Linked DNA regions of Homo sapiens. The protein of the gene in region 1 interacts with the protein of each later gene in a biochemical or structural test. Each region holds a gene or a part of one and is shown in the gene's direction. Other genes may lie near its edges. The genes, in order: FRMPD3, EFNB2, AMOTL1, ARHGEF26, RSRC2, PLEKHH2 and ARVCF.

What was found.
Region 2: the proteins of FRMPD3 (region 1) and EFNB2 interact in a test that uses a peptide from one of them, tested with the Homo sapiens proteins (one large-scale study listed by IntAct).
Region 3: the proteins of FRMPD3 (region 1) and AMOTL1 interact in a test that uses a peptide from one of them, tested with the Homo sapiens proteins (one large-scale study listed by IntAct).
Region 4: the proteins of FRMPD3 (region 1) and ARHGEF26 interact in a test that uses a peptide from one of them, tested with the Homo sapiens proteins (one large-scale study listed by IntAct).
Region 5: the proteins of FRMPD3 (region 1) and RSRC2 interact in a test that uses a peptide from one of them, tested with the Homo sapiens proteins (one large-scale study listed by IntAct).
Region 6: the proteins of FRMPD3 (region 1) and PLEKHH2 interact in a test that uses a peptide from one of them, tested with the Homo sapiens proteins (one large-scale study listed by IntAct).
Region 7: the proteins of FRMPD3 (region 1) and ARVCF interact in a test that uses a peptide from one of them, tested with the Homo sapiens proteins (one large-scale study listed by IntAct).

The regions. Positions count from the first base shown.
Region 1 is NC_000023.11:107,602,170-107,605,751, forward strand, and holds the end of FRMPD3 (FERM and PDZ domain-containing protein 3), read left to right. Parts: coding exon 1-1,204; 3' UTR 1,205-3,082; downstream 3,083-3,582.
Region 2 is NC_000013.11:106,529,163-106,532,662, reverse strand, and holds part of EFNB2 (ephrin-B2 isoform 1 precursor), read left to right. Parts: intron 1-607; exon of another isoform or gene 608-3,500. UniProt on the Homo sapiens protein: Cell surface transmembrane ligand for Eph receptors, a family of receptor tyrosine kinases which are crucial for migration, repulsion and adhesion during neuronal, vascular and epithelial development.
Region 3 is NC_000011.10:94,861,824-94,866,429, forward strand, and holds part of AMOTL1 (angiomotin-like protein 1), read left to right. Parts: intron 1-2,911; coding exon 2,912-3,037; intron 3,038-4,118; coding exon 4,119-4,345; intron 4,346-4,606. UniProt on the Homo sapiens protein: Inhibits the Wnt/beta-catenin signaling pathway, probably by recruiting CTNNB1 to recycling endosomes and hence preventing its translocation to the nucleus.
Region 4 is NC_000003.12:154,250,390-154,253,889, forward strand, and holds part of ARHGEF26 (rho guanine nucleotide exchange factor 26), read left to right. Parts: exon of another isoform or gene 1-838; intron 839-932; exon of another isoform or gene 933-2,726; coding exon 2,727-2,794; exon of another isoform or gene 2,795-3,500. UniProt on the Homo sapiens protein: Activates RhoG GTPase by promoting the exchange of GDP by GTP. Required for the formation of membrane ruffles during macropinocytosis. Required for the formation of cup-like structures during trans-endothelial migration of leukocytes.
Region 5 is NC_000012.12:122,512,800-122,517,405, reverse strand, and holds part of RSRC2 (arginine/serine-rich coiled-coil protein 2), read left to right. Parts: coding exon 1-179; intron 180-2,178; coding exon 2,179-2,301; intron 2,302-2,677; coding exon of another isoform or gene 2,678-2,690; exon of another isoform or gene 2,691-2,694; intron 2,695-3,531; exon of another isoform or gene 3,532-3,639; intron 3,640-4,606.
Region 6 is NC_000002.12:43,758,827-43,763,432, forward strand, and holds part of PLEKHH2 (pleckstrin homology domain-containing family H member 2), read left to right. Parts: intron 1-73; coding exon 74-203; intron 204-3,477; coding exon 3,478-3,564; intron 3,565-4,606. UniProt on the Homo sapiens protein: In the kidney glomerulus may play a role in linking podocyte foot processes to the glomerular basement membrane. May be involved in stabilization of F-actin by attenuating its depolymerization. Can recruit TGFB1I1 from focal adhesions to podocyte lamellipodia.
Region 7 is NC_000022.11:19,974,724-19,979,329, reverse strand, and holds part of ARVCF (splicing regulator ARVCF), read left to right. Parts: intron 1-249; coding exon 250-433; intron 434-1,254; coding exon 1,255-1,372; intron 1,373-1,743; coding exon 1,744-1,915; intron 1,916-2,606; coding exon 2,607-2,624; intron 2,625-2,652; coding exon of another isoform or gene 2,653-2,753; exon of another isoform or gene 2,754-2,762; intron 2,763-3,572; coding exon 3,573-3,644; intron 3,645-4,606. UniProt on the Homo sapiens protein: Contributes to the regulation of alternative splicing of pre-mRNAs.

The DNA.
Region 1 (3,582 bases):
CTCGGGGGGCGAGTGTCTGGGAGCTCCCAATTACAGGAAACTGATGCGCCGCTACAGTATCAGTGAGCTGGACCAGGGTGACAGGGCCTCGCTGACCTCGGATGTCTACCCACATCCTCCCCTGGGCATGCTGCCCAGGGAGGCCAAGGAGGTAGAGGCAAGCCTCCCCATAGCCTTGGGTCCCAAAAGCAGGTCTCTGGAGTCACCGACGCTGGGAGACCCCTCCTACGTCCAGGTTGCCCCAGAGACCAAAGGCCCCAGACAGATGGCCGTGTTCTCACTGCCCGAGGAGGTGTACCGGAAGCCTGCCGAGCTAGACGAGGACAGTGAGAGCAGCAAGTGCTGCTCCATCCGCTACTGCTTCTACTACCGCAAGTGTGACATGGCAGATGATGCCAGTGATGGCAAGGATGAGCTCTCCTACTCTATCCCCATGAAGATCCTGCCTGGCATGAAGCTGGACGAGCAGGTGGTGCCTGTGGTGAGCAGGACCCTGCAGGTGCTGGATGCTGCTACCTGCAGCAGCAGCAGCCCTGAGGCCTCCCGCACTCAGGAGATTGACCTCCGTGTGTCCACCTTCGAGGGGAGCCTGGCCAAGATCAATGCCCTGCGGGCCCATGCCTATGGCCTCCCTGATGGCTTCCTGGCTGCCCGGCTGGACACCAACGAGCTGCTGACAGTCCTGCGGCAGTGTGTGGCCAGCCCCGAGGCCCGTGCCCCCAAGCCCTATGTGTCTCAGATCTCCGAGTATAAGCTTGAGCTAGCTCTCAAGTTCAAGGAGCTCCGGGCCTCCTGCCGCCGTGTGGCCAATGTGGACAAGAGCCCAACTCACATGCTGGCAGCCATCACGGGCAGCTTCCAGGTGCTGAGCAGCCTCATTGAGACCTTCGTGCGGCTGGTGTTCATTGTGCGCTCCGAGGCCCAGCGCCAAGAGCTGCTGGCCAAGGTAGAAGAGGTGGTGAGGAACTACACCTTCCTGCTGCGTGCAGCTGAGGAGTCCACAGCCCGTAACCTTAACCAGCAGCAGCAGCAACAACAACAGCAGCAGCAGCAACAACAACAGCAGCAGCAACAACAACAGCAGCAGCAGCAGCAGCAGGTGGCAGCAGCTGCAGGGGCAGCCACAGAGCATCCACCAGGCTCCCCAACTTCGGCGACTGTTATGAGCACATTCACCCACTCCTTAAAAACCCTTATTAAGTAGGGCATCTGCCCACACCTGTCCCCCTTCCCCAACCATGGCCCCAGGTTTGAGCTTTGTGGTCCTTGCATCTTGTGGTGAGTGTGTGTGTGTCTGCTGGGCCAGTCAGGGTCCAAGAGCCCATCAGTCTCCGGGGAGTGGAAACTCTCTTGATTGAGGCTCTCTCTTAAGGGCTGCAGGCTTAGCTGCCGCCCTGGGTGTCCTCACCCCTTCCCTGGCCTCTGGGCCTCACTGTGAGGGCAAAGGCCCCTCTTCACTCTGCTCACAGCAGAGCTGTATTTTATCTCTTCTCTGGGGCTGAGAGGTGACATCAGGCTCACTTCCTGCTCAATCCGTGTTGGGCGCTGGGGGAGCCAGGGCCTGAAGCAAGCGGACCCTCAGGCTTTGAGCTCCTCGTGGCATCGGCTCCCCTGCTGGGAGCAGTGGCAGTAGCAGCAGGCCACATTGCCGTGCCGAGGGGAGAGGGCGCTCAGTCCAGATGTCCCCATCCACCTTGGGCTCACACTCACCTGGTAGATGCCACCCTGAGGGCCTGTGCCTGGGTGAGATGTCTGCAGAAAACAGCCACACTAGGCTGTTTGCAGCGGCCCAACTGGCCGGCAGCCTGGTGAGCCCTCACCTCCAGGTCCAGTAGCTCCACACCAGCCATCCCCAAAGTGCCCTGCCCCTCACTGATGGGCAGGGCAGCTCAGTCCACTAGGGAGCAAGCATCTGGGATCACCCCACTCATTTTGGGTAAGGTACCTGATGAAAACGTCTGCCTGGGGAGACCCAGTGCAGGCCTAGGAGCCCGCCTAGCCCGGCCCAGCCCAGCTCAGGGGCTGTTGCTGCAGGCATGAGGCTTCTCTCTCAACATCTCTCTACCAGACAGACTGTCCTTGGGAGTTTGACTTAGCTGTGGATCGGGGAGGGGGGTGGGGGGAGGGGGGAAAGGGGTAGGGGTGGGGGGTGTTGATGACTATATCTTAAACTTCTGGAAGCTAGCGTGATATGTTAATCCTGAGTATATGCTTTTGGCTGTGTATTGACCCTGTGGATTTGTCTCTCTAAGAAAAGAAGCTGAGCGCCTTACCCGGTGCAGTCCTGCACCTTTCTCCCTCTCTGGAGCCATCTGGAAGGGAATTCACACTGTTTAACATCCACCTTGACACACACCTCCTATTGCCACCACCGCTGCCACCACCACCGCCACCACCGCTGCCAACCCTCCCCCCACGCCCCCCACCCCCGCAACCTTCCTGGGAGTGAAGACACGGAGTCCCTACCAACTGTCCCACTGTAGGGAACAAAGAAAGCCAATGTTTCTTCTGTATAGATTGCTTCTCGTCCGCCTCTCCATATCTCCCCATTTCCCACACCCTTGTGCCCTGTGTCTGCCTCTGTTTCATCACTGTGTCAGAGGCCCATGTGAAATCTTTCATTCTGATGTGAGTTTTATAAAGATGTACACTGTGCTTAATCCCTGCCCATCCTTGGTAGCCCCTAGTGCAATAAAGTCTCCCTGAGTGGTGAGTTCTCCCGGCAAGGAGGAGGGGAGTTTCTTCTGCAGAATCCAGCCCCTCACTTCCTTGCTTCTCCTCCCCCAGGACCAAGTTGTTGAATGGGCCAGAGATGCAGCCAGTGGGGAATCCTTTTCCCCTCAGCCACTGCAAGCTGGAGTGCTGATATGGTCTTCTTTTTCTCCCAACTTCGCCACTCAGCCCCTGCCTGTGTCATTCCACCGCCATCCTTCACCTCTCCCTCAGCCTCATGGAGAGGAAACATTTTCTAATGTCTGTATATAGTATATATACTACATAAAATATATAAATTATATATATACTAATTTATGTCTTGTTTTTCAAACAAGAATGATTAAATCTATTCATCTTACTATCCCAATAAGTCTTTGCGGTGCCTCTTTGTGGGTGTCCTTGTGTCCTTGAATTGTTGGTTGGTGGTGGCCCTTTGTGTGCTCATCCTGGGCCCCTGCTCTTATGTACTGGGCACTGGTGGGTGATGAGAGCTAAGGACCCTGTTCCTCCCACCTCCCCAACACACAGGGGATCCCCTTTGCTCCTCTTTGAAGCCTACTGTTTCTCATGGGAGTTGGAAATTGTCTACCTCTTTCTCTTGACCACGAGGCTTCTGGCTCACCTGGCCCCCATGGCTGTGACCTCAGAGCTGAAGGGCTGGAGGTGGTGTGGGGGGTTGTGTGGAGAAACACAGTGTGCTCTGTGCCTAGTGTATCAGATGGCCTGGGAATTAGGATTTTAGGCCACTCCTCAGACTGGGGTTGGGAAATGGGGCCTCTCCCTCTGAACTGTGCCTTCTTGCTCTCAGAGTGCAGCCTGACTGCCTCGCAGTTTAGGCTATGGAATCCCTTGCAACAGCCTCTGGCC
Region 2 (3,500 bases), on another chromosome or scaffold:
GATGACTGGATAATGTGTGCCTGGAAAAGGTCTCCCTTGCAGCTGAATGCTAGCTCCAGAGATCAGAAAGATTTCTTCCTGTAGGAGCCATAGGAAAGAGTCCTCTCTAAGTTTTTGAGAATGCATACAACCCCCTGATGACAGGGGGTCGCTTTCCTTGGGGAAGTTTTATATTTATTTCCAGAGGAAAGTTTGAATCGGTAAATATGATGTGGCAGGAAGGTAATCAAATGCATTGAAGTTTCACATCAGTTCCTATGAACTGTGGAACAATTCATTTGTAATGAAGCCGCCATCAGTAATTAGATTTGTTTCATTCAGAGGTCAGCTTTTTTAGCAGGTGGTCGACACAGGGAGCATGCAGCAGCTGTTTGGATACAGGGTCCAGAAAACCCTTTGTAAATTCAGCGTCTCCGTAACTACTTTAATCACATTGTCGGCTCTCCCGTCCCTGACTGTATGTAATAATGGAAAGATGTCCTGCGTGCTGAAACAGTAGCTGCCCTGTTAGGTTATTCACATTGCTTTGATACGTTCTGGTAGAGTTGGGTCCGTTGTAGCCATTTTGGTTGTTTAAAGTTTTGGTTTTTTTTTTGTTTTTTTTTTAATTCAGCAGAGAACAGTAATGCCTAGCTTCCGTTTTTAACTTAACACTTCAGTAGAACATTTTCTTCCAAGAGGGAGATTTTGGCCTAAGTAAAGTAGTGGGCTCTTTTTTAAAAAAAAATTAATTTTACTTTAATGTGAGCAAATCTGTATTGGTATGGTGTTCTGCAATGCATTACACTGACTTTGAAAATTTCGAGTACTAATGCCTTATGTCTGGGGTTACCATTCCCTGTGCATCACATACTAGTTAGTTAACATAGCATTTTGCTTTTCCCATGTAATTTTTTCCCTATATAATACTGGATTCCTGATACTAATTGACTTGATACAAAAGAATGGCTGGATGATATCCAGATAACGTATAATACATGGGCTTCACCACAATCAGGCTCTGAATAAATACAGACCTGTCAGAGATTGATAAAATAAACTACAATGGATAGTGCTGTTTAAACAGTCCATTCAATAACATATATAAGCCAGCCTGCCTTCCATTGTGTCTGAAATTCTTATTTTTGTAGGTAAACAAATGCACATTCAGCACTGATTGAATAGCCCCTTGAACTATGCTCCACAGTTTGCGTTTGGGTTAATCTTGTCGGTTTTAATATAGAGAGAAAAAAGCTCAAAGCACCAGGGGTGGAATTGTTAGTGCTTTCACATCCACATTCCTCACATTTTGTCAGGATGATAAACTGTAGGTAATGGACTGTCGTTGTTCTGCAGGACAACTGAGCCAGGCAGAGCACAAAGACTAAGCTAAAGCGATACCTCACAACATGCTTGGTAGCCTTCTTTTCAGATGAGAATTTATTTGAGAATCATGTGTCTAGGGACTGCACATCTTAACCTCAACAGTTACAGCTTCAAGCCCCAGAAACAGGAGCTGGAGGTTAAGATGATTTGCTAAGCACCTGGTTCTAAATCTTTTACAAAGCATAAGCTGTTGACGCTGGTTCTGCCGACGCAAAGACATGCAGATGACTCCAACATTTCCAGAGGCTTCTGACTTAAGCTAAAGTGTGTGGACAGGTGAATTCGCCATGGGCCTGGAGACCAGCTTGCTAAAAACTATGTGTTTGAATGGTTCCTCCAGACAGAGTCAGCTGAAGAACAATTGGTGGATTTATATTAAAACCTCTTGTCTGTAAACTTACTGAGGTGCATCCTTCGGTTGGTGGATCAGTGAGATAATTGCCTTCAGATGGACATTGCAACTGGAGCAACTAAATCCTTGCTGTCTTTCCTTCCTCTGAAATCTTCCAGGTAGCTCCCGAGAGCTTCAGTATGACACCAAACTTCGGGCGACGTTTTAGAGTGCGTTCACCTAATGGGAAACTATTCGAGATCCCAGCGTGACTGCAGTAATGCGTCATAGGAATGGGAGTGGCAGGGGAAAAGGAAATACAGATTGTAGACCCTAATAAAAAAATTTTTAGGAAAGATATTTCTTTAACGTTTTATGAGAACTTCATTCTTAAAATACTTAATTGCAAATTAGACAAATAGAAGTGCTCTTCTAAGGAAGGTGATTAAACTGGTCCTCCTATCAGCCTAATCTCTGCCTGCCTTTGCTGCTGACATAAAGAACCTGTTTTTCAGGTCACTTAATATACATCTACATAGATTTGCTTATGAGCTCACCCTTTGTGTAGCGGAGTAGAGCCTTAAAGAGGAGTGCTCAACTGTTTAAAATATTTTGATTAAAATATGCAGAACCCATAGAACTATAAGCTTCTAGTCAGGAATTAGCTCTTTCAGGGAACAGCTCCCCCCTTCTTTTTAAGGGGGGAATTAGAAGGAGGCTGGGGGAGGAATATAAGAACAGCAAAGAAGGAAGGATAGCAAATGGGACATGTTCCGAACAGCTTGGAAAAACTCCTGTGGCTTCATTGTCTCTATAAAGCCAAAGAATACAAAGACATAAGCAATTCAGCCCTTCTCCCATGATGGAAGATGTAAACCGTTGACATGCCTCCCCTGTTTAACTTGTTTAATTCTCATTTTAAATTCAGCACGATACTAGCCGTGTGAACTCTGAAGATTTCTTTAGTAATCCATTTTGTAGTTCCGAATCAAAAACAAAGTGAAAGGGTCTGACACAATTTGCTTTTATTTTTAGGCAAATCAACCCTGGTCATAGTTAATAAGGGGATTACAACTCAGACTAGGTCTTTACAGATGTGATGTAAATCAAGGGCAGAGTATAAAGAAACTGATCCCTTTTGATTGAAGTATAGTAAAAAGGCATAGAGAAACTAGCAGCAGTAATCTGATTGTATGGCAATAAAACCACCATTTTCTGTCTTTCAGATAAAAATAATGTGGTAAATCCATGCAGTTCATAAGATGTAAAGGCAGATAAAGGGTGAAGCCATGGCAACATATAGATTAGCTTGATGTTAGAAATGACACGTCTCTGAAAAGGGCGCGGGACGAAGGCCCTTGCCTCCAGGCTGTTGGGCATTATGTGAGAACCACACAGACTTGGAAACTGGGATTAGGAAGTATGAAAGCTCTACTTGTGGTCTGGGATGGCTGAGGCAGTAAAGAAAAGCTGCTCAGTTCTTGCTCATTGGTGGTGGATAATATGGCAAAGGTAGATTTCATTGACTGCCTTTTTTATAGATTGAGATTGGGGCTGATTAAAACTTCAGATCACTGCAGTTGTTAGGGCCTGGGAGATTTTCCTTTTTAACTCCTGGCCTAACAGCAGCAGCCGTTCTGTAGGATTAACTGCACTTCGCGGTCGTTGCCTTAATCTATTTGGGCTTCAGGCAGGGACATGCTGGGAAGGAACAGAGACCAGAGGGGATAGGTAGGGCTGGGGTTATCTGAAAAGAAAACAGAGACCTTTTGATTTCAGCCATCTTTTCAGACCCAGCTCCCTC
Region 3 (4,606 bases), on another chromosome or scaffold:
TGAATGGGACTAGAAAGTAAAATTCAGAAGTCGGGAAATGAATGAGTCCAAAGCATACACCCTGTAGTGGGCAGAGGAGGGAGGGTAGGGAGCGAGGAGAACCAGACCCAGTCACAATCACCCACTCACAGGATTCTAGGCCCAGCCTTGTTCTTATCCTCCGTGCAAGGGGAAATGACTCTTACCCCAGAGAACAGGAGTTCTGTGGGATTTACCCAGTCCCACTGTTCCCCTTCTCTGCCTTATTTGGAGTCTTGGATGGGCAGAGGGAGCCCCTTTCCATCCCCGTCACCCCTCCTTCTTTGCTTTTACACATATTTATTGAGCATCTAATAATTCTGTGAGCAACTACCCTCCCCATTACAGACTACCCCTTCTGGGTGGGGGAATAGGTTCAGAGAACCTCAGATAGCTCCAATCTTAATGTTCTTTTCAAAGAAAACCTCTGTCATTTCAGAATTGCTTTTTTCTTTTCAGTAAGAGAAAAAAGGAAAATGAAACATTTTTGAGAAAGGTACACATTTTGAGCTCTTATTGACTAGGTGCTAAATGGCCACAGTCAAATTGGTAAAAATGACTATTTCCAGCCATTAGTTTTGTGACTTTTCAACCACAGATGCATGCTTTATATTTATAATCAATGATTTTTAAACAAAGAAAATAACTTCTGTAAACCAACTGGTTTTCCCATCTTTATGCATCTTGATGGTGTTGGTCAGAATTTTTAGAGAGTCAGCTTATCTTTTATGTGTGCAGAAGGTTTTGAAAATTTTTAAAAATTTCAAAGCAATGTAATATTTCTTTCAGAGTTTTATATATTTACTATCTAAGTTGCTTTCCTCTAATTGTGTTTGCTCTCCTTACTTGGCAATGTAAACATGAATTTTCAGATTTGTTTCCAGCTCCATGTAAAGTCTCCAAAAGTAAATTTGTTGAAAATGTTTCTAGCCACTAATTTCTATATTGATGATTTTGTGCACCATAGTGTGAATTTATAATTTTGCAAATATGTTTAAAGCATTTTGTTTGCTTTCTACATCATTTGGCCTTTAGTGTATTTTCAATGACACTTTGCACTTTTCTGAGCCACATTCTCACATATGCCCTCTGGTTTGTTTTTATCTTTACTCATCTTTGCTGAGACCTTCTTCTTAAAGACATATGAAACTTGCAGGAGTATAGAGCGATGGTTAGGGGCATGGACTTTGGAGTCATAAATACCTGAGTTAGAATCCATTTTCACTATTCACTAACTGAGTATTCTTGGAAATGTCACCTAACCCTGGTTTCTTCATCTAGAAATTGAGGATAATAATACCTTGTGCACAAGTTGTGAGAACTAAATGAGAGACCATGTGTACCGTGCCCTACCCAGTCCCTGTATGAAGTAAATGCTCATTAATGTTGATAGCTGTCATTAAAGGGGCCTCTATTTTTCTGTTTTGGGCTATTCTGTAAAAAAAAAAAAAAAAGCTTTAAAGTTTTCAGGCGGGGCGCGGTGGCTCACGTCTGTAATCCCAGCACTCTGGGAGGCTGAGGCGGGTGAATCACCTGAGGTCAGGAGTTTGAGACCAGCCTGACCAACGTGGTGAAACACCATTTCTACTAAAAATACAAAATTAGCCAGATGTGGTGACGCATGTCTGTAATCCCAGCTACTTGGAAGGCTGAGACAAGAGAATCGCTTGAACTCAGGAGGTGGAGGTTGCAGTGAGCTGAGATCACGCCACTGCACTCCAGTCTGGGCAACAAGAATGAAACTCCATCTCAAAAAAAAAAAAGTTTTTCAGTATGATTGTACATTGGAATATGAAGTTAAAAGATGTGAAATACTTGGCTACATCATGTCTTACTAATTAAATACTCATGTAGTCAGAGCCATTATTGTGCCTTTCATCTTGAGCTATATCACTTAGATGATGCAGTGATCTTATTTTTACTAATCATTGTTAGTTAGTAGTAATTAAATTGTCAAAACCAGTGGCAGGAATAGTTATCTGTGACTGGTTGTTTATAGTCAGACAGATGCTTGCAGTGAAACTGCTTCTTGATCTTCTCGTGTCTGCCCTTGCCCTCACTGCACCCACCTCACCTGAACTTGTCAAGGACAGTGTCTGCCTTCTTCTTTCTGTCCTGGACCCTGGCATGCCTATTACATTGTCCTGACCTGCATCCCAGGCAGGGCCCATAAAACAAGAAGTGAGACAGAATACAACATGAAGGAAGACTTCAGCTTGGAGCCTCACTCTCTGAGAGGACCAGTCTCAGTTTTAAGTATTTACTGAGCCCCCATTTTACTGTAAAATACTGAAGTAGGCATTCTATGCTGTATGGATGATAAACAGAAATAAAACCTAAACTCTGATTGGAAAAGTGAGGTATAGGACAAGCATGAAAAAGTACAAGCATGGAAACACCAACAAATACAATAATAATAATAATAATAATAATAATAGTGTCCATAAGTCAGTAGATTAAATCTCTAGGTGCCCATTTTACATATTCATAACATGCCATGTAGCTACATACATAATGTAGTCAGAAGGGGGAGGGGACTTGATTTTTGAATTTTATTTTGTTTTCCTTAGATGCTGCTTAATTCTATCTAGTTAAGGAAGAGAATTGGACAGAATTCAGGAGAGGAAAAGTGGGTGAAGGAGTTTGTGGAGTTTTAGCACGGCACCCTGTGATCACCTCTCCACAAGCATTTACACCTTTCTCTGTATGGGCATCAGATGAGATTGATAACTGAGCTGGGGAAATTGGGAGGGAAAGGCTTCATGAGCCAATGCGAGATGCAGAGCTGATCTCTGTTCCAGCATGAACACCAGCCTCTCCATTCTGTGTCTGTTTGCATTGAGACAAAGCAAGAAGGTTTCCTATGATCAAACGCATATCCTTGTGTTGCCAGGGACACCACGATCATCAACCACTCACGGAATGGCAGCTACGGAGAGAGCTCGCTGGAGGCCCACATCTGGCAAGAGGAGGAGGAGGTGGTGCAGGCCAACAGAAGGTGTCAGGACATGGAATACACGTAAGGGACGACTATGTGTGACGTGTGGGGCCCGCTGCATTCACACTCCAGGCCTTCCAGAACAGATTGCTTCTCTGTCCTGTTCTGAAAGGCTGTGAGCATGAGGTCTCCAAAAACTCTCCTCCCCCATGCTGTGCCATGGAGAGAAGGAAAAGGTTCCAACCTAAGCACGTGGTTCCACTCAGCAATGGATCTGGTGCCGGAGTTCTCTGGGGGAAATTGCGTGTCACCTGCCGGTTTTAAGATGCAGGCTGAGTCTAGTGACAGAAGAATTTAGATGTCTGTGTTATTTCTTGGTGTCTATCTCTATGACATTATGAGCTGAAAGGGGGAAACATTATATCCCAAAGATTCAGAGTTTTTGAGCCAGAATTTATATATTCCAGTCCAAAATAAAGAACATATTTAGCTAATGCACTCTTCTGATGGGCTACACAAAATTTCCAGCAGACTTTTTGACATAATAAAACTAGCCTGTCCCCCTTCACTACCTAAGGGCTTGTGGAACCCTGGGAGCCCTAGGCCTCTTATTTTGCAGATGTGAAAATAGGGCTGAGTAGTTGAGCCATTGATAGATAGGCTCAGTGAGTTACTATCAAAGTTGTGAAAATAACTCAGCATTCTTCCAGAAAAATCATCTTCTACCAGAGAACCTGTTCATCTTGGTTCTTTTTTCTTAGAAAATAGAGAAATTGACTTTAGCTGAAAGCTCACCCTGTTTGAGGCTTTAGAGTTTTTATGCTTCCCTATCCCCTACCTACCCCCGGCCCCCACCGCCAATGCTAGACCCTCTAAATATGGTCCCCAGCCGACTTCGGTCCAGGAATGTGGCCACGGTCATTCTAACTGTACCTCGCTGAAGTCCCAGTCTCCCAAGGTGCCAGAGAAGGTGTACTCTTTTGACATATGACAAAAGACCTGTCTTAACAATTTGGAGATTATCAACATTTGAAGACTCGTACTGTGCTTCATCCTGTATCCCTAAATTACAATTAAAGTCTTTGGGACAGCCTGAGATAAATGTTTCAAGTTTTTCTAGCCAAGTGGCTTTTTATGGAGACTGTTTTGTTTTGTTTTACAGTATTAAAAATCTCCATGCCAAAATCATAGAGAAAGATGCTATGATTAAGGTCCTGCAGCAGCGATCTCGTAAAGATGCCGGGAAGACAGACTCCTCCAGCCTACGTCCTGCCCGCTCCGTTCCATCCATAGCAGCAGCTACTGGGACACACTCTCGCCAGACCTCTCTTACCAGCAGCCAGCTGGCTGAGGAAAAGAAGGAAGAGAAGACCTGGAAGGGGAGCATAGGTGAGCCCCACACCTCTGTCAGACCATGATTGGAAAAGCAAGACCAGACAGCTTCTCTGCCACTCATGGGACACGGAAATGTCCCTGAATAGTTCCTGGTCTCAGTTTACTCATCTGTGAAGTGGGGAGGGAAATCAGTCATACTTCAGTTATAGATATGTGGAAGCATTGTGTAAATTCTAAAGACTGCACCACTGGAGTAGCTCTTAGCCATGGGTTGACTCAGATCAGAATTATCTATTATTGTTGTAAGTTGAGGTG
Region 4 (3,500 bases), on another chromosome or scaffold:
GGGTGGGACTCACTCAATTGAAAGTCTCAAAAAGCTGCTCCTTTTAGTGATAGCAACAAGGAGTGTCTTGTTCTATCCTCTGGAGTCCCTGTGAGGGGTGGCCATGTCTAAGAGATGCTATTAGCATCCAGGCAGCATGCCACAGAAGTGAAAGATTTCATCTGGACTTCTGGAAACTGGCTGTAGGGCAAAGCCACTGCTGATACTGGCCACTCAGTGCCAGAGACGGTGTCTGTGTACAGGAAGATCTGCCTCACTGGCTCCAAGTTGCTCTAAATTGCTCCAGAAGACAGCAGTATAGGCTATGTATAATTTGTTTCAGTATGGCATAGAGAGACACAAATGGATCATTTTAGATTTCTCTTGGTGAGCAACACTTCTATTCATGAGGTATTTTGTTTTCGATTGGCTTTGTACTTTGCAAATTCCACTTGAGCCTGTGTAAAAAATAGATCTTATTCCCAATAAAGACATCATAGCAAAGATACAAGTGTTTGCCTGGGAATTATTTTACATGAAGTTGTGCTTTGCTTATTTCTTACAGAACTATTGTAAAGCCCTTTGTCCTGTATTAGAGAGAGAGAGAGAGAGAGAGGTTTTAAAAGCAAGACAGGAGCCTTGGCTTCTATATAAATTGTGCATATTACTACTTGACACACCATCTTGATCAAGGCCCAGCCTCATCTTAATCTTTGAAAATGCCTGTCTTTCAAGATACCACAGTTTCCACCCTTCCTGCCTTCCATCATTATTTTGTAAACACCTGCTGCGTAACACCACCTCTTTGATTTCAGACTGCCTGGGTTAGGTGCTTAACATACCAGACTTGCTTTGTCCTCTGAAAAAAATAGAAATAATTTTGGTAATATTTTCTTTTCAAGATTGTTGTAAAAATTAGATTAGATGATACTTGCAATTGTTTAGTACCATACCTGACACATAGGTGCTTCAGAATATTATTTAGAACAAGGCCCAATTCCTGCCATTCTGGAGTTTATAGCCTGGTAAGAGAAGCAGATGAGTCAGTAAATGATTGGGCTCAATATGTGATGAGTTATATAATTCATTCATTAGCAGACATATACTGAGCCCCTGTTACGTGTTGGGCAATGTTGTAGAGATAATGCAGTGAACCAAATGGATAAGCTGCCTGCTTTTATGAGGCTTACTGTTGACCAGCAATATAATAGAATTGTGCAGAGGGGTGCCCTAGAAACAGGATTATCAGACTGGGATGGAGATGGAAGGATTGGTTTATGTATCAGAGGAGCCCCCACTGGAGGAAGTGAGCCTTGTGTTTTCAGCATTGAGTGGATATATGTTGAGCAAAAGAAGCCAAATACAAAAGCATACATACTAAAGGATTTCATTTGCAAAAAGTACAAAAGAAGCATGGTAATAGAAATTCCATGGTAATGGAAAACAAGAGCAGTCACCTTTGGACAGAGGTTATTGATTGGAAAGGGTCAGAATGGAAATGCCTGGCGCATCTGTGTCTTGGTAAGTAAACACAGAGCTGTACACGCTTATGATTAACTCAGTTTATGTTATGTATGTTAAGAAATTTTAATGGCAATAATGAGTGGGCTTATCTACGCAAAAACAGGGAAGGAATAGGAAAGGCTGGGGCAAGGGTGCTATGTTCCAATGCGGTAAGTCATCCTCTCTGCCTGGGTTGGAAGGATGCATATGGGGATGAAGGTGGGGTGACAGCGACAAGCATCTGTAGATTCAGGCTGCTATGAGAGAAGAGTTTTTTTCCCCAGGTGTTGGTCATGAAGGCATTTTTTCTTAAGAATGTAGAGTGGCACAGTAGAAACTGACTTTGGTTTGAATTGCTTGCCTCTGAACTTCTGTCTGATCTTAGCATCCTTCAGATGGGCTTTTGAGAGGATTACATGGAATAGTGGATGTTGAGTGCAGTGTCTGACATGTAGCATGTGTTTAATAAATACATAAGAGAGTTAAAAGTATGTGTGTGGCGGGGCAGTATTTAATTAATTGTAATTTTAATACTTGGTGCTCAAAATAAAAAACCAGGGTGACTGCATTATGTAGAGAAGTGCTTGCTTATCTGAAACTTTTGATCCTTTAGTTGAATAATTATTTTTATGTAATTATAGCTTAATATTATATTAAAAGTATTGGTCATTTTTCCTGTGCTCATTAAACCATTTTAAGCATTTGGGAACAGTGTAAAAGTGGCCAAAGAATTTCTATTTCAGTAAGACTCATATTTGGCAAAATTAGTTGTATGAGGGATGAGACAACTAAATATGTCAAGTTTCTCAAGTTTACGGAAAGGTTTGAGTGTGTGGGAAGGGAAGTGGGGAGGAAGCAGAGAAATTAGTAGGATTTTTAAAAAATGAAACTTAACTGCTTTTGAAATGTTAAACATCAAATTATGGGTATGCTAAATACCTTTTGGAGTTATAATGTGTTCGTGTAATCAGCTCCTTATTAACTTTTAAACTGTCATATGGGAAGTTCCTTTTAATCAATAATGAGCCAAGTTCATTCAGACTCTTTTGACAATGATGACTAGTCTCCTGCTTATTTTAGACTTTCCAGCTTATCACTTTTAAACTACTCTCACCCTGTTTTACCATACCTCTCTAGAGAATCTCTTGTTTTCTGGGAGTGCCTTTGCATTGGCTGCCTAGAAAACACTCCATTCTGTGTTTTTACACCTTGAGTCTCTCAGTTGGATCTGCCCTCTGTTTTAGGAGCGAGCGAGCCCGCTGGATAACTGCCCTGGGACACAGCAGCGGGAAGCCGCCTGCAGACCGAACCTGTAAGTTCTCTCAAGGGGAAGCCCACTTGGGAACATGGATGGGCTCTGCCCCCTGCTGGACGCCGGGTTACTAACGAGTTATATTGCCACAATACTTGCCTAAGTTTCCTCCAGGGCTTCCTTCTGCTTTACACCAAAAATGTATGATCCTTGCTTTGGAAGTCAGGGGGTCTGAATTCAAATCCAAGGTGCATTTCTTTGTTGTGTAAACGTGTCAAATCATTGCTTAGCATTGCAGAGCCTATTTAACCATCTGCAAGTCAGTTACACCATTATATACAACATGGGGTTATTGTGAAGATTAAGTTAAATAATCTATGTTAAAAGCCCTACTTGAACTGTAAAGCCCTTAAATTTTTAGCTATTATCAGTGGGCAACAGTTGATCATGTTTAAACCTTCTACATACTGACAGTCTGGATTTAAGCTGAAAAGTATTTTTAATCTAAAAGAAAATTACCTAAGAATTCTTTTTGACCTTCTAAGAAAGTGTGTTTCACTATTCTAGAGAATTAGAAACTGGCGCAGTGAAGGGGGGTGTTGTATGCCTATTAGCTTCCTAACTTTGATGCTGTGGTTTCTTAGATTATTACAGTTGCAAGGTCAAATCCAAAGAATTAGAACAAAACATTGTTATCCTGGAACACTCAAAAATTATAGCTTTAAGCTTAGATTAAAAGCCAAAATGACTGGTTTGAAAGTTCCCG
Region 5 (4,606 bases), on another chromosome or scaffold:
CGGAAGAAGTCTCGATCCAGGAGTAGGGAGCGGAAGAAATCGAGATCCAGAAGCAGAGAGAGGAAGAAATCGAGATCCAGAAGCAGGGAAAGAAAACGGCGGATCAGGTCTCGTTCCCGCTCAAGATCAAGACACAGGCATAGGACTAGAAGCAGGAGTAGGACAAGGAGTAGGAGTCGGTAGGTGACCATCATCCTGAATAAAATTTAATAGGACCCTCAGAGAGTCTGTTTATCTTCCTCAGTAAGAGAGTATTAAAATTGTGAGTCACAATTCTATTTATAGATTATGGTAAAATTATTTTAGTCATTACCTAACGTATGAAGAACACACCTAACCACTTGAATAGCATTCACAGGTATTCTCGTGATTGATAAATCTCTTGCGAAGTGCAGGTATGAATAGGCCTATTAAAATGCAGTTGTTGGCTAGGTGTCGTGGTTTACACCTGTAATCACAACGAGGCGAGCAGATTTTTTGAGCCCAGGAGTTCAAGACCAGCCTGGGCAATATGGTGAAACCCCATGTCTACAAAAGATATGAAAATTAGCCTGGGGTGATGACCCACACCTATGATCCCAGCTACTTGGGAGGCTGAGGTGGGATAATCACTTGAGCCCAGAAGGCAGAGGTTGCAGTGAGCCAAGATCATGCTGTTGCACTCCAGTCTGGGTGACAGGAGTGAATCCTGTCGTAACAAACAAATTCAGTTGTGTTCAACACTGGATTTGTTGTATTAATTTTATTATCACAAATAACTAAAATCTCCTTTTGCATACTTACCATATGCTGTATGCTAGAACTCCTTGCATGTTATTAGCTCATCTAGTTCTCAGAAGAACCATGTTGAAAGGTAAGTGTGTCGTGCTTAAAGACGTTTAAGAAATTTGCCCCAGAATTCCAAAACAGTATCATTATTAAGTGCTAGAGCCAGGAGCAGGTTTCAGATATATCTAAATGCAAATTCCATGCATGTGCTTAACCCACTGTATTGTACAAACTACCTCAGATTTTGTTTGTAAATGAACACAATTTAGATTTATCTTGATTGGTGGGAGGAGGCTTTGTTGAGATAGGAGGTGTACAATAAAGAGCACAGGAGGAAAACTAATTATAAATATTCTTCAATGAATGCGTTATTCTCTGCTTGTTTACATATGACAGTAGTATACTGACTTTTGTAAATTGATTGCAACTTAGGTCAGTGTATGAAAGATTGAAACATACATTTAAAAAGGGACCTGTACTTAATACAGTAACTTGGTTTTTATGATTTATCACTTGATCTTTAAATCAATATGAATTTTTACTCAGTGGTTCTAGTTTATAGTAGTTTACTACTTTGAACCTTACCAATTAAGAAATTTTTTTTTAAGTGCTTTTTTGGTCACTGACATCTAGTTTTTTTGTTTGTTTTGAGACAGAGTCTCACTCTGTCGCCCAGGCTGGAGTGCGATGGCACAATCTTGGCTCACTGCAACCTCTGCCTCCTGGGTTCAAGCGATTTTCCTGCCTCAGCCTCCCGAGTAGCTGGGATTACAGGCACCCAGCATCACGCACGGCTAAATTTTGTGTTTTTGTAGAGACGGGGTTTCACCATGTTGGCCAGGCAGGTCTCGAACTCCTGACCTCAGGTCATCTGTCCGCCTGAGCTTCCCAAAGTTCTGGGATTACAGGCATGAGCCACAGCACCCAGCCAGACCTAATTTTTAGTGGTTAATAACTTTTTATTTTTGAAAAACATCTACAAATTCACTGTAGATGAAAATATGTAGGAATGATTCCTGTGGTATACATATTGACCTACAAGAGCACAAAATGACTAATGTATAAGGCTAGCTTTTCCAACATTGGATATACTATGCAAAAGATTGGAAACAGCCAGATGCGGTGGGGCATGCTTGTAGACCTGTGTACTCTGGAGGCTAAGGCAGGAGGATCACTGGAGGCCAGCCTGGGCAACATGGTGAGACCCTGTCTCTTAAAAAGGGATGAGGGAGTTGGAAACAAATGTTATTTCCAATGAGTTCAGCTGTAACACTGATGTTTTAAATCTTTTGCATCTCAAACTAAATGTTTTTGTATCGTTGGGATTTTTGTTTGAACTAATTGATTTCTTATTAACAAAATAGTTATGACTTGGCCATAATTTGACATATGAAATACGATTTACTACAGAGATAGAAAGAAGAGAATTGAAAAGCCGAGAAGATTTAGCAGAAGTTTAAGCCGGACTCCAAGTCCACCTCCCTTCAGAGGCAGAAACACAGCAATGGATGCACAGGAAGCTTTAGCTAGAAGGTGTGTATATTTCTTAATTCATTTGTTCCAGTTCGCCTTTAAATAAATGCTCAATTGTGTGGATAAGATGAATTCTTTCAGTAAGAGAATGATTCACATACTTTAGTAATATGGTGGCATATTTGTGATCTAGAACTATGTAAATAGTTTAATTCTCATCCTAAACATTTGCACAACTATAAGATTGAGATGTCTACAATTTCTGTTTTTTCCTTCATGATTTAACTGATTTCATTTTTCTCAAATTTAGACTCCCAAATATTTTCAGTTTGCATTTGAAACTTTTTTTTTTTGAGTCTTAAATCTGGTTCAAGAACTATTATTTTCTCATCTAAGATGACTTTTCCTTTACTTTTTGTTTTTCTCCCTCAAATAGACAAAATACCTGAAACAGTAAGTAAAATTTTGTCAATATTATTATTTTGAAGATGGCAATTAACAGATAATACATTATAAGCTAATTTATTTGATCTTGTAAGTTTTATTCCTGGTAACTATGGGAGAACTTTTTTTTTTTTTTTTTAATTTTCTGCTGTTTCGGCCGGGTGCAATCGGTCACACCTGTAATCCCGGCATTTTGGGAGGCCGAGGCGGGCGGATCACTTGAGGTCAGGAGTTGGGAGACCAGCCTGGCCAACATGGTGAAACCCCATCTCTACTAAAAATACAAAAATTAGCTGGGCGTGGTGGCAGGCGCCTGTAATCCCAGCTACTCTGGAGGCTGAGGCACGAGAATCGCTTGAACCCATGAGGCAGAGGTTGCAGTAAGCCAAGATCGCACCACTGCACTCCAGCCTGGGCGATAGAGCGAGACTCAGTCTCAAAAAAAAAAAACACACACACACACACACACAAAAATAAATTTTCTGCTGTTTCAAAGATGAGTAATGGTGAAACCACACACAGCACGACTATATATTGAAATCTGCAAAACTATTCAAAGAACTGCCTCATAGAGAGGCAAAAAGTAAAATAAAATCCAAGCACTTGTTTGCAGTATTTCCCATATTTTGAAAAATAGACTTTTTAGGTTTTGATTTTTTTTTCTCTCGTTACAAAATTAAGGTGTTTTGTTTTTTGAGACAGGGTCCCACCCAGGCTGGAGTGCAGTGGCACATGATGACGGCTCACTGCATACTTGAATTCCTGGGCCCAAGCAATCCTCCCACCTCAGCCTCTCAAGTAGTTGGGACCACAGGCATGCCTGGCTAATTTTTGTATTTTTTGTAGAGAAGACGGGGTCTCCCTATGTTGCCCAGGCTGGTAACACAGTGTAACCTGATGTGCTTCCCTGGGAACCCAGCCTGACAGAAACTGCAGCTGAACAGCAGCAAAAGTGTGAGCTCACCCCTTCTTTCCATTCACCTTAGTGAATGGTATTAATTCCAAATCTTCAATGGCCATTTTAATGCAACCAGTTGTAGTCACACGTATCTTCTTTCTGAAACTAGTATGGAAATAATTTACTATAAAATTGGATTTAGTATATGCTAGATTGTAATTTCATTAACTCTGACAAATATTTTTTAAGCTCTTATTTACTTGAATGCCATAAGTCTATTCTGTTTGTGTTTTTGGATTTTTTTAAAAGTGAAGCCGTTAATAGCATCCAAAATGTCATTGATATATAGATTACTTGGTGATCTTTCAGATAAAGTTTTAAATGTAGTTCTTTAATTTCAGAATATGAGATTATTTACTACCTTGAAATCTGGAGAATTTTTTTCTTAAGAAACTACCATGTATAGACCTTTTATATTGGTTTCTTTTTTGGCTTAAAGGTCAGGATTTAAAACTGTTTAGGAAATACATTTCAGATCTGTGACCTACTTTTTTTATTTTTTATTTTTATTTTATTTTATTTATTTATTTATTTATTTATTTATTTATTTATTTATTTATTTATTTTTGAGACGGAGTCTTGCTCTGTTGCCCAGGCTGGAGTGCAGGAGCATGATCTTGGCTCACTGCAACCTCTGCCTTCTGGGTTCAGGCAATTCTCGTGCCTCAGCCTCCCAAGAAGCTGGGATTACTGATGCGCATCACCACACCCAGCTAATTTTTGTTTTCTTTTTAATAGAGACGGGTTTTGCCATGTTGGCCAAGCTGGTCTCGAACTGCTGGCCTCAAGCAGTCTTCCCACCTTGGCCTCCCAAAGTGCTAGGATTACAGGCATGAGCCACCTTGCCAAGCCTGCGACCTACATTTTATTGTTACTGCTAATTTACAAACTTTTATTCTCAAGGACAAAGTCAAGTCTATGTTATGCCTTCCATGCATATGTGCTTCATAAAAGGGAATAAAA
Region 6 (4,606 bases), on another chromosome or scaffold:
ATCTTAAGACTATGACACACTGTTTATGTTTTTGCTTTAGTGTTTTTGTTTTTGTTCTTTTCTTTTTTTTTAGGCAGCTTTGCCAGCGACTTTCAACCAGATGGATGGCCCTCCGGGGACACAGTGCTGCTGACTGTGTGCGCATTTATTTGACAGTAGCCAGGAAGTGGCCATTCTTTGGTGCCAAGTTGTTTCTTGCAAAAGTAAGAAAGAATGGGAGAGAGATGCATAATGAAAACCTTTGTGTACATAGTTGACCAGATTTACCCCAGACTTAGTATCCTTGGCTTTTGTAAAAAATGAAGAAATATCCAATAATGTAAAGAAAACAATGAAGAGACACTAGAGAAAGGGCAGAAAAGCTTCTCTATCTTTTCCTCTCTGCCCAACTTTTCCCACCCTAAATCATTTCTTGGACTCATTAGGTGAATCATGAGTCCTAAACCACAGCTGAACTCTGCATTCTTCTGTTCATTCATTCATCCATGCACATGTTTACTCTGTCACTCATTTGCTCATTAGTATTTACTAAGTTCTGTCTGCTAAACATTGAGCTAAGCTCTAGGGATACATAACCTATTGTTTCAGATGGATTGTACATGAACTTCCAGGACTATTTTACTTTGTAACAACAGGCCTATAAACAAACCACTGTATGGCAAATATCACTATGAGTCACATGAACAGACTGCTGCAGGAACACTGAGGAAGGAGACCCACCCTGCCCAGGGATGGCCAGCCCTTTCCCCAAGGGAAAAATTATGCCTTTTGATTCCTTTTCTTTCTGTTGAAACATGTCTCTTTGTACTTTCTCAGGCTCTTAAGATACATCTTGCCTTGTGTTATATTTTTCTGTGTGTTTGTTTTATACTCACTATTAAATTGCATGCTCCTTGAAACTATAAACTCACTGATCCTAAAATCTTCCTCTTGTACCTACTGTAGTGCTTTGCACGTAATTAATAATTATCACTTAATAAATATTGCTGAATAGCTGTGCAACTTTGGGCAAGTCAGGTTACCTCTCTGGACCTCACTTTTCCTCATCTGTTAATGAAATACTTAGATTAGAAAAGTAAAATCTAAGGTATCTTCTAACTCTGATTCTATGAGTGACTATATTATTGATAGGTGAGAATTAATTTTTTTCTAGTGGAACTGAAAGCTGTATACTAATTAAGAAAAAGATGATAAAGTTAGTATTCTTAAACATCTATAAAATTAATGTACTTACGGGAAGTTGAACGTTACTTTTTAAAATTACAAGGAATAGATTTGAACTGTAGAGCAGCATGGATTTTAATTCTAACTTCAGCATTGGAAGTAATATTAAATACCCTTTTCTGTTCTGATAAAATGTGCTTGCTGGCACAAAATATTATTAAATAATAATATTGCTTTTCAAATTACGTGACAAGCATCTTTTTTGCTCACTTTTCTTTCTTTATAACAAGCGACACCTCCTTTGTTGCTTCATGGCATCCTGTTTTCTGTGTGTGGTAAAATACACATAATGAAATTTACCCTTTAACCTTTTTTTTTTTTTTTTTTTTTGAGACGGAGTCTCACTCTGTCACCCAGACTGGAGTGCAGTGGTGCAATCTTGACTCACTGCAACCTCCGCCTCCCAGGTTCAAGCGATTCTCACGCTTCAGCCTTCCAAGTAGCTGGGATTACAGGCGCACACCACCACGCTCAGCTAATTTTTATATTTTTGGTAGAGACAGGGTTTCACCATTTTGGCCAGACTAGTCTCGAACTCCTGATCTGAAGTGATCCACCCGCCTCGGCCTCCCAAAGTGCTGGGATTACAGGCGTGAGCCACCGCATCTGGCCCATTGTAACCATTTTTAAGTGTATAGTTCTGTGGCATTAAGTACATTCTCATTGTTGTGTTGCTGTCACCACCATTCATCTAAACACTTTTTTATTTTCCCAAACTGAAACTGTACCTAACTCCCCAGTCCTCCCTCCTCCTCCCAGCCCTGGCAACTGCCACTCTACTTTCTGTCTCTATGCATTTGACTACTTTAGGAACTTCAGGTAAGAGAAATCATATAATATTTGTGCTTTTGTTATTGGCTTATTTCACTTAGTGTAATGTCTTCAAGGTTCATCCATGTTGTAACATGTGTCAAAATTTCCTTCCCTTTTGAGGCAGAATAACATTCCACTGTAGGTATATATATACCACATTTTGTTTATCCATTCACCTGTCAGTGGACACTAGAGTTGAAGGGCATCCTTTTGAATTGAATTCTCCCTATCCTTTGCAAATCAGCCCTCAGTAGACAGTTTCTAACTCAGGGTTTTGTATATATGAGATGCTAGCAAGTTTTATTATATAAAATAACCCAACATTCATTCCAGTTTTATATCTATAGTCTTGACATTGTTTTGTAAAATTTAAGGGAAATAGTTAAGATTTTTTTTAGGATTTCATTTGTTAATGGAACCAAACAAGCATCATTAATTGCTCAAAAACATTCATGGGTTTCAGTTGGGTTCTAGTGGTAGGAGATTCTTTTTATTAATATAATTTCATAGCTTTTTTTTTCTATGAGAACCAGGAGTAGCTTTTAGCTTTTTTTTTTTTTTTTTTTAGATGAAGTCTCACTCTGTCACACAGGCTGGAGTGCAGTGGCACTATCTCAGCTCACTGCAGCCTGCGCCTCCCAGGTTCCAGCTGTTCTCCTGTCTCAGCCTCCCAAGTAGATCGGATTACAGGCGTGCACCACCATGCCCAGCTGATTTTTGTGTCTTTGGCAGAGATGGGGTTTCGTCATGTTGCACAGGCTGGTCTCGAACTCCTGGCCTCAGATGATCCACCCACCTCGGCTTCCCAAGGTGCTAGGATTACAGGCGAGAGCCACAACACCCAGTCAATTTCGTAGCTTTTACAATAAAAAATTCGGTGGAAATTTTCATATTTCTCATTACTATTGATTACACAGTTTCATATTTTCTTGTTATTGTGTTTTTATTACACATTGAATATCAGATTTAATAAACTTTCAGGAAAGGTGTGCAATTATAATAATAATCTTTTACCTTGTAATAGCACTACACAACTTATCAAGCATATCAGTATATTTTGCTTCATTAGGATTTTGGTCATCATAGAAACCCTAAAAACTTGTTGACTATTAACGTCTTAACGCAGAAGAAAAGTAAAATATAAACATTATTGTTCCTATGCTAAAGATGAGGAAATTGAGCCTCAAACAGATTCAGTAGTTTATCCAAATGCATACATTAATATATGGCAGGTTTGGGTCTCAAAGCTAGGTCTCCTAATATCGAATTCACTCTTAGCTCCGGTATACCACCCTGCCTCTTTCCTAGGCGAGATTTTTAATAAATTTTTGTTGTTATTATTGTTGTTTAATGGCAAATGTTACATGACATTTAGACTGAAAAATATTCCTGTAATTTTGCTTAGTATTTATAATATAGTGTATTTTCACCTCTTCATAGCCCATAACTCCATCATCACTTGGAAGTACTTTCTTGTGGCTGGCTGTACATGAGGATGGTTTAAGCCTCTTAGAATACAACTCCATGGTAAGTTTAAACGCTCAAGTTTTGCATTAAGTCAACTGTTTCCATTGCTCAGTGTACCGTAAACAGAAAGTAATGATATCTTAATCTGATTTTTCTCTTACCCAGGAAACATTCTTCCTAATACTATGTCATGAACAGTCATTTTACAAATACAGCTATGATTATAATTTAACCTTTTAAAACAAGATAAGACAGGTCGTTTATTGTGTATGAGAAAAATCTTGATACCATGACTAAATTGTGATCATGGTTACATTCATGAAATGATTATTTTTTAAAAGTGTTAAGAAGATTGTTTCCTGTGTAAAATAAAAATCTGTAAGAAATCATTAAGGTGGGAACTTTAATTACCAAAGTTTAAGTTCACTTTCACTAAGGCTTCTTTAACAATTTCTATAATTTCCTATAATGTCATTTATATAGCATCTTAGCACTTTTCACATAGTTTAAATTCAAACTATGATATCTATATGTGTTCATTTATTTACCCGAAATTTACATTTTTTATCATATTTCATGTGTCTAATTATTTAATACAATTTTATTCTCTTTTTTGTTTAATCTGGTGAGCAGGAATTACTAAATTCACCTGGCAGGTCTAATCCTGTGGCTATAATCAGAAGATCACTGAAAATTTTCTGGAAACCAAACTATTCTTTTGTGTTATAGTCACTGTTTCCCCTTATAATTGCTTAAAAAACAAACACACACACACTTTTTTTCAAGGGGTTATATTTTCTGAGTGCCTTTTAGTTTTTAAATGGATAACTTGAAGATATTATAAAATCAGTGACTTAAAGTAAAAACAAACAAACCAAAAAACCTATACACCAGTACTAAGTTACCTTAGTTCAGAAAACTAGCTCCCTAGCTCCCAGGAGGTAGCCAGACAGGCCAGGAAGCACACACAGGTGGGTCTGAGGCATTCAGTCCTGGAATGGTCTGCTCAGTCTTGCAAGGTAATCATTAGATATGCAGAGTCCTTTCAGGCTGTATATTAGTTACATTTTATTTTATTTTATTTTATTGATTTATTGATTTT
Region 7 (4,606 bases), on another chromosome or scaffold:
TGGCAGGGAATGGGTGGGACGGGACAGCACTGCCACACCCTCCTCTGCACCTCCTCCCCTTTGGGGCTCCTTCCTAGCTGGAAACCAGTACTGGGTGTCCCCCGGAACCACTCACGGCTTTTGTTACTTCCTACTGTTCTGCATGAGCTGGGACATGAGGAGAGTGGGACAGGTCCTGAGCGTGGCCACCTGGGGAGGTAGGCAGGCGGTGCATATGGTCAGCACAGATTGGCCAATCGCACCCCACAGGCACCCTGTGGAACCTGTCATCCTATGAGCCCCTGAAGATGGTCATCATTGACCATGGCCTGCAGACGCTGACCCACGAGGTGATCGTGCCCCACTCAGGATGGGAGCGTGAGCCCAACGAGGACTCCAAGCCACGGGACGCCGAGTGGACAACTGTCTTCAAGAACACGTCGGGCTGCCTGAGGTGTGGACCAGACCTGGTGCTAAAGCCCACATGCACACCAGGCCCCGTCCTCGTGGTCCCAGATAGTGTGGAAGATGGCGGCGAGCTTAGGAGCGCCAGAGCTTAGGAGCTTCAGAGCTGTGGCACAAGTCCTGTGGATGAGAAGTGGGGCCTGATGGAGCTGTCCTCACCCCCAAGTGGTGTCCCAGTCTTCCCAGGGGCACCCTCTGGAGGGGTCTCTGTGGTACCGTAGCCCTGCCCAGCTCTCACCTACCTTCCCATCACTTGACAGCCAGAGGGGGAGCTGGGACCTTCCTGTTCATCTGCCTGGGAGGCTCATCCCAGCCACCTGTGACCTCTGCCCTTCCCCTCCTACCCCTGGGAGGCCCTGCTGACCCCACAGAGTCCTGGGTCCCCACAGTCCTGCTTGTCCATCAGGGTGTTCCCGCGCAGCCCTGCAGGCTCTTGACCTTGGGGTAAGGTGGGGCCCAGAGCTGCCATTGGGGTGGCGAGGGACCCAGAATTGCCCTTGCACAGGTTCAGGTCTCTCTGAGAGTGCACCTGTCCCTTTCCAGGTCAGCTGGGAGGCAGGGAAACCCTGTCTTTCCCTGCCCAGCTATCCCCAGCCAAGATAGTTGTCTGCCAGGGCTCCCCTCCTGAGGCCTGGGGGCAGTTAGCTTCTCCCCCTTCACTGAGCTCCAGACTGTGGGGTCCTTTCCCATTAGTGCTAGGAGGGCAGCAGCAGGGCCTATTTTGCAGATGAAGACAAGCCCACAAGGCCAGGGTGGAGCCAGGGAGTTTCTGGTAGCCAGGGGTCACCTGGCCTGCTCTTGGCCACACAGGAATGTGAGCTCCGATGGTGCTGAGGCCCGGCGGCGACTCCGGGAGTGTGAAGGGCTGGTGGACGCGCTCCTGCATGCCCTGCAGTCGGCTGTGGGCCGGAAGGACACTGACAACAAGGTGGGCAGGGACGGTCACAGCCTCATACCAAGGGCTGGAGAGACGATCATGCAGGTCCCAGGAGGCTGGAACTGTGGGAGCAGCACAGGGGAATGGGCTTGTGGGTCTGGGGTGGCGTTCTGGGTGTGGCCCGCCTCGCAGTGACCACACTGAAGTGGGCACCGTCCTGCAGGCAGAAGGTGTGCCGTGAGGGCAGAGGCTTCCTCCCATGGACCCTTCCTGGCGGTTACCGCCCTTTTGCTCCCCTCCACTGAGGACTCCCTGTTCCTTTGCTCCCGGTGCCCTCATGCACACCAGCTGTGGCCAGTCTTTCCTGAGGGCCAGCCCTGTGCCTAGGGTGCCCTGCCCCACCCACTCACCTCTCCCTGCAGTCGGTGGAGAACTGCGTGTGCATCATGCGGAACCTGTCCTACCACGTGCACAAGGAGGTGCCCGGGGCCGACAGGTACCAGGAGGCCGAGCCCGGGCCCCTGGGCAGTGCTGTAGGCTCCCAGCGCCGGAGGCGGGATGATGCCAGCTGCTTTGGAGGCAAGAAGGCCAAAGGTGGGTGGGGCGGACTGGGGTATCATCTCTACCATCTCAACTCCTGCCCCAGCGGAAGGCTCTCTGTACACCCACAGCAGCCCATCATGGAGGCTAGAGGACACCTGGTCAGCCCCCAACAGGCAGGCAGGGAAGCCAGGAGTCAAGGAGGCTGGACTGCCCTGGGTCACATGGTTGATGGGACCCAGGTCCAACCTTCCCCATCTACACTGTGGGACCCCCAGGGAGTACACAAGGGAAACCAACCAATGCCCAGACCCAGTCTTTCTACTCCGGGGAGAGTTCCACTTGCCCATGAGTTGGGAAGGAGCCATGGCTGCTGCCTGCTCACTGTTCACAGAATAGCTGTAGACTGCCACCAACCTGTGGGGCAGCCCCCCATCTGCCTGGGCAAGATGCCCTGCACACCTTCTCTACTGCACTAGCAGGGTGTAGGTTCCCAGGACCTCCCCAGCAGCTGTGGGGGACCTGTACGCCACCTGCCCCTGCCCCACTGACCCCAGGCCTCCCTCTTCTTGTACCCCTGGTGGGTGCTCAGTGCCCAGAAGTGATGGGATGAGGTTCCACATGCTGCCTGCTTGATCCAGGGTGTGCAGTGGGAACCTGAGGCTTCCGGGAGGGCATGGGGGGGTGATGAGTGCTGCCTGTTCAGGCTCCTCTCCTCTCTCCTCTGCTTCCTCCGGCCTCCCAGAGGAGTGGTTCCACCAAGGTGAGTCCCTTTTTATCCTGCTCTCCAGGCCTGGCGTGTGCAGTGGGTACCTGGGAAGAGGCGAGCACGTTCCAGCCCCAGGGCCCTGCCCCACCCCTGGCTTCATCACTCGGGCTGCCATCTTTATGACAGTGGCAGGTGGGAAGGCCACGGGGCTCATTCTGTAACCTCAGACTTGCCTACCTGGGCAGAGTTGGGCAGAGCCAAGAGTGGGCAGGGCCCGGGGGTACTTATCTCTAGGGGCACCAAGGAGCAGTCTGTTTCTCTGATAGAATGGGGCATCATGTGGCTCGGAGGGATACAAGGGTCCCATGAGGGTGAGCAGGGCAGGGACCCCAGGTCATCTGGCTCCACTCTGCTGCCTTCTGAAGGGGTAGAAGCATCATCTGACATGGGGAGAGTGGTTGACAGTGGGCTCACTGTCACAGACGTGTGCAAGCCAGGGCTACACAAATGTTAGGTGGGCTGCTGTGGGGTTTCTCCTGGCTAGTAGATCCTGGGACAATGTCCTGACCCCAGCTGGGGGAGTTTCCCCCTAGTTCTGCCTTACTGTGTGACCCAAGTGAGTCTTGTCCTGGTCAGCCTTCAGTTTCTTGGCTTGTATCCACCTACCATCCAGCCAGGGCTCCTGGCTTCCCTCAGTCTACATACCTGGCAGTTGCAAGGGAGCCACCGGGAGGGTCTGTGGTACAGCTCCCAGCACCTGGTGGGAGATGAGTCCTAGGGGCAGGGCTGGGACATCCCCAGGCCCCACTGCCACCAACTCCTACCCCTAGGCTAAACTGTCTGCCCAAACTCTGACAACGGTGCTCCACTCCCACAGGTGCCCAGGCCTGGACATGGGGGTGCCTTTTGGGGCCTGGGTAGGAGAGAACTGTGCCCAACTCTCCTGATACACCCATTCCCCATATGGGGTCTGCCTCACCTCCCACCACCTTTCCCTTCCAGGAAAGAAGGATGGTGAGATGGACCGGAACTTTGACACGCTAGACCTGCCCAAGCGAACTGAGGCCGCCAAAGGTGAGTGGGCTGAGATGAAGCCAGCTCCACTGGGGGATGTCTGGGCTCAGGATTGCCCTGGTAGTGAAGCTTTGAGCCATCAAGCAGGCCTGGAGGGCCTCAGGGAACAGATGGGGAAACAGGCCCCTAGGTGCAGGATTTCCTGGAGGGTGATTCAGCACCAGGACACCTGCTGAGGGTTTAGAATGGGAGGAAGTGCCATGGGTCATGTCAGGCAAGGTTGGGGGAGACAGGCACAGAGAGGCCGAGGGCTTGCTCGGCCTCACGGTGCGTAAGAGGTGGGAAGGTTTGGAGGGACGCCTCCAGTGGAGGCAGGGCCTCCTGTGTTAGCCACAAAGCTGAGTTATCTGAGGGGGCTGGGAGCCAGGCGGGCATGCTCACATCCAGGTTCAGAGGCTGGGCCAGACGAACACCTGCAGGGACAGGGCAGTGCCTATTGGGCTGTATGCTGGGATCTGGCTTGAGAGAGAGGTCTGTCCTGGTGGGGCCTAGCCAGTTGGAAGAGCCTGCATGTCACCAGGGTGGAGGGCTCCAGCCGCAGGAGGGCTGTGGGGGAGTATTACAGGCAGAGCAGGGCTGATGCAGATACCCCAGCGGGGAGTGTGCTTGGAGTGTGTTGGAGCAGAAAGCCCAGCAGGGCAGGAGTAGAGGGAGCATGGGGCATGAGGACTGGCGAGGGTGTGATGAAATGTCACTGGGTGGGTACAGGGGAGATCGAGGTAGTACCCAAGCCAGGCTGAAGCCCCAGTTTGGAGACAGGCAAGCTTGGAAGGCTGTTTTGACCCCTCATTTCTGGAGCACTGGGCAGAGCAGCAGGACGGCGCCTCAGTTGCCCGGGAACTTGGAGTGGTTGCCAGGAAGAGTGCCTCCTGTTGCTAGGGCAGCTGCCCTGGTTGCACTGCATCAGTTGACTTACAGAGGGTGGGCTCTATTGTCAGTGGGGGAGGGTGGGCCCTGTTGCT